Homo sapiens: one gene and its partner. The protein of the gene in region 2 interacts with the protein of the main gene of each other region in a biochemical or structural test. Each region holds a gene or a part of one and is shown on either strand. Other genes may lie near its edges.

Region 1 (3,753 bases), on a different chromosome or scaffold from region 2:
TGTTAAGATGGTCTCATGATTATCTTCAACAAGTCAATTACACACTTTCCTGTCACCATTGCCCAGCAGAGAGCTTTGCTGCAATTCTGTGAAGGAGCAAGTAAGTCTTCGCTTCCGTTGTTGGTTTTCTCTTGAGCACAGCATAGAAGCAGTAAAGCTTTCATTACAGACTAAGCAGTAATGGCTGTCAGAAAAAAGTATACTCTTTTGAAATAGACGTGTAGGAAAAAGGCTGGGAATCAACATTTTGACTAAATTTTGAAAGTATCTTGAGTATTTTAATTCACAGTTTTGTAAGTATTTTATGCCCAAGGTATTTTTGTGAAATTATGTACTTAGTACAAGATTAAAAAGAAATTTAGTGTATTTTTGCTACATAGATCAAAGAGAGCTCTAAATAAAGGCTACCACCAAATCAAATTACACACAGCATTTTCCTTAATTGACAGGATTTCATTACCTATAGAAACACAGCAAAATCTTTCTGAGATTCCTAGATTCTTGCATTGTTCAAGTTTAAAAAAAATCAATGCCTTACATGGCCACTTAGTAAGAATGAAAATTAATATCCGAGTATTTAATTCATATGATCTTTTACTATACAAGTGAAAAACAAACAAAAACTCTTTTTAATCGAAAACAATAGTGTTCAAACAGCTTAAAAAGCCAGCTGTATACATTACTGCTTGGCCTGTGGTGAAGCTCTGTTCATAGATAAGATTAATATATCATCATATCAACACTTGGCTTTTTCAAGAAAAATTATTCAGCAGCAATTTTCCAATTCCCCTTAGACAGAGAGGAAAGAGACACACACACACACACACACACACACACACACCCCCACACACACACAGAGAAAGAGAGAGAGAGAGAGAGAGAATATGAATTAGATAGGAGCCAATCTCTTTCATGTATGTCCATTTAACAAAGCAAGAACTAAATTCTGACCTGAAAAATCAACACAGCTATATGAATTATCATTCTAGCAACTTGAAAAGGGAAAAAAATCTGACTTTGGATCTTGGGACAGTGGTTCTTGTGATAGTTACTTGTTGTATGATTTAAAATACCTTAGAGTGATGGTGAATGAATAACATCAAGCATTTACTTTGCGAGAAAAAAAATTCATAAAAGTAATGTAAAACTGAATGAGCGAGATGGAATTAACATTTGTATGATATACTCATTCAATGGAACGTTTAAAAATTATAAATGGCTTATGATCTATCAGGCTGATTCACAAACTCTGGATGGATTAAAAACTGAACTATCTTTAGAGAAATGTAAAGTGATTCAGTTTGATTCTTTTCTATATGATAACAGACAATTTAACCAGGAAGTTTTTAAAGAAACTTCGTTAATTTGGTATAAAAGTAACTGATTGGCAAAGTAAAGCAAAGCAAAAAAAGAAAAAAAAACAGCAAAAAAAAAACCCTATGAAATGCTCATTAAAAGAGTATAGAATCTCACAAAATCTGTGCTAAACAGTGCACTGCTCTTAGCTTTCCCCAAAGTGTTTTTAATATAATTTCTGACAAGCTGATGTAAAAATACTGTCAACATTGATCTATCATGATTCAGTTTCCTAAAGCTGTTTAGTAAAACGTTACTGGAGATTATTCACTGGCATTAATTCCACACGGCAAAGAATTGGAAACATCTTCAACAGATAGGGGTCTGATATGCTGGTCATAGGTGCAAGCCTTAAAAATAATACAAAAATTAAAATAATTTTATTGTTTTGTTTTGAATATTTTAGATGATAAAGTTAAATTCACTAAGAGATACTAATGAAATTTAAAATAGATAACAATTCATTTGAAATGACAGGAATTCTCTTAAAATTAAAACAAAATTCCAGAAGCATTTTTTTCAAAGCATTCCTGGTTATTTTATTTACAATTATTGAAGGATATATAAACTAGTGTTAAAAGAAAACTTTTCCAAAGGTTTCTCAAGGTGTGCTTAGAAAAAATTTTTTTTACCTGATTCAATAACTTTCTTAAGCTTCATTAAAACACTAACATTTATTGTCAATGTCCAAGGAGAGAGAATTATAGTATAGGACCATTTGTTCTCAGACCACAATGAACATCTTCCAGAACACAATTTGTAAAATACTGGAATATTGGTGAGCATAGCCCAAATACACTTTACTTCTTTTCTTTAAAACATTACGGGACATTTAAAAATATATTTGTTTTTTGCCAAAACATTTTTTACAAGGATAAAGATGTATTTAAGGTAGGCAAGGTATTACTCTAGGGATAGAAGGAGGCAGTTAGAAATCAAAGGAAAAATAATTTTAGAAGTTAAACCTAGAGAATAAATTATTATACCCATGGTCAATGCCAACAAATAGGTGTCTTTTCCTCATAGACATACCCATTTAGGAGAGAAATCAGATATTAAATGTGAGGGCCAATCAAGAGGTTCACCATGGTCAACTCAACAGACTTTACATTTGACATTCCTTCATGAAATATATTTAGATCTTAATTAGATGTCAGCAGTGCAACTCTAGCTTGCAGAAGATGACAGAACATTGAAGCAATGACACAAGAGAAAGGCAAGTGTTTTGTTGTTGTTTTTAATATTTAGAGACTTAAGCAATGTACTCCTATCTCATTTTCCTTCCATACACTCCACTGACAAAAAGGAACATTAATGGTAGCCATATTTAATTCATAAGTGAGAGAATGGCATTTAGATACTGTTTTCCACATGAAAAAAAAGCCTAAAGGAGCAGGGAAAATACAATAAAACCTTAAGAGGAAAGTGCACACAGTAAAAGATGGTGAGGCTGGTCATCCAAATAGTCCCTTTAATCAATGTAACTTGGATTGATTTGTTCATTTATATCAACAATCTAATTTGACTCATTGCATGGACACATCATATTATATTAACTTTCAAAGCTATATTTAGAGATCACTCTTGTTTTGATATTATTAAATATAATGTAACACTTCCATTTTTTAAAAAAATTGCTGATCAGAAAACCATGTGGCAAAATGAGTACATTTAGACTGAATGGGATTTTGCTCAAATGTATAATCTTTTGGAAAAGGAAAAGCTTAAACACAGACACATACACACACACTCATCTGTTTAGTATGTATCTGCATATTCTACTGTATTGTTCAATTTAATTTACAGCCTGTGGTTATTTTGAGAAAAAATATTCGTGCAACTCTTTTAGAATGAGGCTACCACATGTTTGTAAAGTCAAAAGCTTACAAAATAAATAGGTTCAACTCACAAGTTAGAGATCTGAATGTCCCTTGCAAAGAAGGAAACATTGATTAGGATTTTGTATTTGAATAAATAACAGCTTGCAACTTCCCTTCTACTTCAAGTCTTTTAAGACATTGAAGAAAAGGACAGAAATATGAAAATGAGAAAATGCATTTCAGGCTACTTTGAGACTGAGATAGTATAACAGAGTAACTTTAAGAAAAAGATAGGGATTTTCCTAGGGAAAAAAATTTTTTAAGATTGGAGGAAATTAAGTGGACTGAATGAAAAATAAACTGACTAGAAAAATGGTTTTCATCTTAGAATTTAATGCTTAAAATCTGATATAATGTCAGAACTAAGAAGGACCTTAGAGATCTACTAGAGCAATGATTCTCAAATTTGGAGCACTTATCAAAATGTATATTCCCAAATCTCATCCCTAGAAGTTTATGCTGTCAATACAAATTTATCGATGCCTACTGTGTATAGCTTGTATGAACTTGATTATAC
Region 2 (3,753 bases):
CCCACCACCCAGCCATGGCTCCCCGCAAACCCACCCCTCCTCTCCATTCTCACGACCACCACCTCACTCAGGCCCCAGCTGCTGCTGCCTCTCCCTGGACCCCACCCGAGGCCCCTGCAGTTCCTGCGTCCTGATGGCCCCTTGCACCACGCTCCACATGGCAGCTGGAGGGAGGAGGCTTGTCACAATGCCCGTTGTGCTATTTCAGCTTTGGTTATTTATCTTAAAGACAGATAATGCATTTGCGTGGTTGAAAATCAGGAGGTGAGAAGCCTCTGCCCTCTTCTTGGGTGTCCCCATCCCCGGAGGTGCTGTTCATGAGCTCCTGGAGGGGGCCTTCCAGAAAGGTTGATGCATACCACACATACCCTCCCCTTCCCGTTCGCACAAATGCAGTGTGCTCATGTCCCACTGTAAGGCAAAGCACACGGCGCCATCCCGTTCCATGGCCAAGGAGCGTCCCACAGTGTGGGCTGTGCTGGAACCTTCCAGCCAGCACCTCATGGACATCTGCATTGTTTACGGATTTTGCTGTCATAGACGTTGTATACCTCTGCACACGCTGTATGCTTCCAGGATGCTTTTCTTGGAAGTGGAATCATGGGGCATTGGAGCCTCGGGCTGACCATCTGGATCCATCCCACGGGGTCAGAGAGAGCTTCAGAAACAGAATCATGATGTCCCGCCTCCCACACTCACACATCCCACCGGGCTCCCCACCACAGAGCCCAGCGCAGTCTCCTTGGCGTGGCCTGTGGGGTGCAGCCTCTGATGCCTCCACCCATTCCCTTTTGCTCTAGCTGGAGTGCGACACCCCCCGACCCTGGGGTCCCTGTGGTTCCCTCCGCCAGGCTCTGTCCCTGGCTCTTCACCTGCCTGGCACCTGCTCACCTGTTGGCCCCATCCTAAATGCTGCTTTTGTGGGCATCTTCCCTGCCCACAAGGTGTGACTGTAGTTTCCCTGTGACCCCCTTGGTGCCACTTGTCCACGTTTATTTGCGTTTGGGTGATGTTCCCCTCCGCAGCCACAGCTGCATGTCATCCGGGAGCTGGGGCCTTTTTCTCACAGGGACCCAGCCCCTTCTCTCGCACCTGGCCTCTGTTAGGCCATCGGGAAATACCTGCTGAGGGAGCTGGTGAGACAGTGGCCCTGGGCCTCCAGCCCAAGAGGCACACATTGGCCGTGGGTGTGCACGGAATGCTGGCCCTGAGCACGGTCACAGTGGGTGGTTTCGGAGGCTTCCCCTGGACTTCTGGCCCAGGCTGCCCCCCGTTATCTTGGACATGCTTCATTTTTCCCATCCTCACGTAAACCCCTGCAACTCCTCCCTAGGAATTACAAAATGACCTAGACCGGGAAACAAGCAGTTTGCAGGAGCTCGAGGCTCAGAAACAGGATGCTCAAGACCGCCTGGACGAGATGGACCAGCAGAAGGCCAAGCTCCGAGACATGCTGAGCGACGTCCGGCAGAAGTGCCAGGATGAGACTCAGATGGTGGGTCCCGGCCACCTCCGGGGCAGCGCCCTATGCACAGGCAGGGGCTTCCCAAGGACTCCCCTGAGCTCGTGTTACCTGGGAACACAACACTTAGACATCCTACTGGGTCAATAGAGTTCCTCCAAACACCACGTGGAAAAGTGTCCAAGCACCTGTGGCTTGACTTCCTGGCCACCCCCCTGTACTCCTAGAAGTCAGGTTGTATAAGTGAATGGCCTTGGTCCCTGCGAACTTGTGCCCTGAACACACCCCACCTGGCTGTGCCCCACAACACAGGGAGTTCCAGGGTGCCTGTGTCCCCTCCTCAGGTGTCTCTGAGGCTCCTCACAGATCCCGGAGGCTGCAACCTCAGAAAACTCTATGACGTTCAGCCTCTGGGGGGATGGACAGATTGTTCGTGCTTGGTCATGCCCCTCATTATTCCAAAGTGATCTTCCGTTAGCCACAGTGGGATGAGCCCATCTGCCTTTTCATTTGTGTCTCTATTTTGGGTGTAGAAAGAGGCCTGTAAGGAAGCCAGGTGTCGGGCCTGGGTTAGGTGTCTGCGTCCCTGGCTTAGCTTGTTTCGGGGATGGGGGCTAAGAGTTCTTTCTCGGAGTCCCATTTCATCCTGCACTGTGAATCTCTTTAACATCTTTTAACATCTCATTTCAGATCTCATCACTGAAAACGCAAATCCAATCTCAGGAATCTGACTTAAAGTCCCAGGAAGACGATCTGAACCGAGCCAAGTCGGAGCTGAACCGATTGCAGCAGGAGGAAACCCAGCTGGAGCAGAGCATTCAGGCTGGGCGAGTCCAGCTGGAAACCATCATCAAGTCCCTGAAGTCAACGCAAGACGAAATCAACCAGGTACTTCACGGAGTCGGGTCCCTGCCACATGCCAGGGACCAGCGAGCCCCAAGAGCCGAGGCTGCCACTGCTGAACTCCTTTGCTCTCACCCTTGTTACTTACGTGAGGGTCTCTTTTGGGAGGCTGTGGTGCTGGCCTGGAGGCGCAGGGCCAAGGACTCCCCAGGGCATGTTCCAGAGTTTGTTGGCATTGGCCTGGAGGAGTTCACTTTCCTTTCCTGAGCACACAGCATCTTCAAGGAGTAGGCGGGGTGGGGTGGGAACACTTAATTAATGGCTCATTTGGAGAGAACTTGGGGTTCTTTCCAGCCTGGTCCTCACACAAACAAGAGGGACAAAGTCAGAGAGATGACTTCTTTGTCCTTGGGCAAGAGAACAGACGTCATCCTCCACAGCCACTGGTGTGTTCAGGAGGCGCCACCCTGGAGCATCACGCCATGCAGGACCCCCATTCTCTAAGCTGCCTGGGACGCCCCCACCCTCTTCCCAGTCCAGGGGGGGGCGCTGGCTTCTCGTGGCCTGCAGCCGTTGCCCTTCCCTGCTCTCCTGTGGGCAGTAGATGAAGGCCTCTGTCCTGGCCCTGGGCATCCAGTCTACACAGTGGTTGTGACACTGGCCCTCGCCTGTGTCGGAGTGGCCAGGCACACTTCTTTTACCAATTGAACTGGTCTCTGTCTGTGCTCCATTAGCCAGTTTATAGGCCACAGTTGATCGCAAGCATGGACCGCTCAGAGATTTACCACCCTTTCTTGTGCTTTATGGTTAATATCTGTAGGATTACTTTCAGTGTTTTCTCTTCTAACCCTTAGAGTTTGTAGTTGGGTGTCAGGAGCAAAGATATGTTGCTTTGCGCAGTGCAGTGCCTTACACCTGTCATCCCAGCACTTTAGGAGGCTGAGGCAAGAGGATCACTTGAGGCCAGGAGTTCAAGACCAGACTGGACAACATAGCGAGACCCCATCTCTACAAAAAATACAGAATTTTTTTTGTATTTTTTGCAGAGATGGGTCTTGGTTTGTTGCCCAAAAATATAGGTGGTGACACGCACCTGTAGTCCCAGCTACTCAGGAGGCTGAGGCAGGAGGAGCTCCTGAGGTCAGGAGCTCAAGGCTACAGTGAGCTATGATCACTCCACTACATTCCAGTCTGGGTGACAGAGTGAGACCCTGTGTTTTAAAAAAAAAAAGCGTCTTTTCTGACATGTTTTCCTGACCCTGCTTAATGCTGATGATGTCTTTGTTGCACAGGCAAGGAGCAAACTTTCCCAGCTGCATGAAAGCCGCCAGGAGGCCCACAGGAGCCTGGAGCAGTATGACCAGGTGCTCGATGGAGCCCATGGTGCCAGCCTGACCGACCTGGCCAACCTGAGCGAAGGCGTCTCCCTGGCAGAGAGGGGCAGTTTT

Evidence for each region. The genes of interacting proteins can lie anywhere in the genome.
Region 1: the proteins of EPS15L1 (region 2) and SGIP1 form a complex in vitro, tested with the Homo sapiens proteins (one study listed by BioGRID).

Annotation. Positions count from the first base shown.
Region 1 is NC_000001.11:66,747,125-66,750,877, reverse strand, and holds part of SGIP1 (SH3-containing GRB2-like protein 3-interacting protein 1), read right to left. Parts: 3' UTR 1-3,753.
Region 2 is NC_000019.10:16,402,330-16,406,082, reverse strand, and holds part of EPS15L1 (epidermal growth factor receptor substrate 15-like 1), read left to right. Parts: intron 1-1,333; coding exon 1,334-1,495; intron 1,496-2,152; coding exon 2,153-2,350; intron 2,351-3,597; coding exon 3,598-3,753.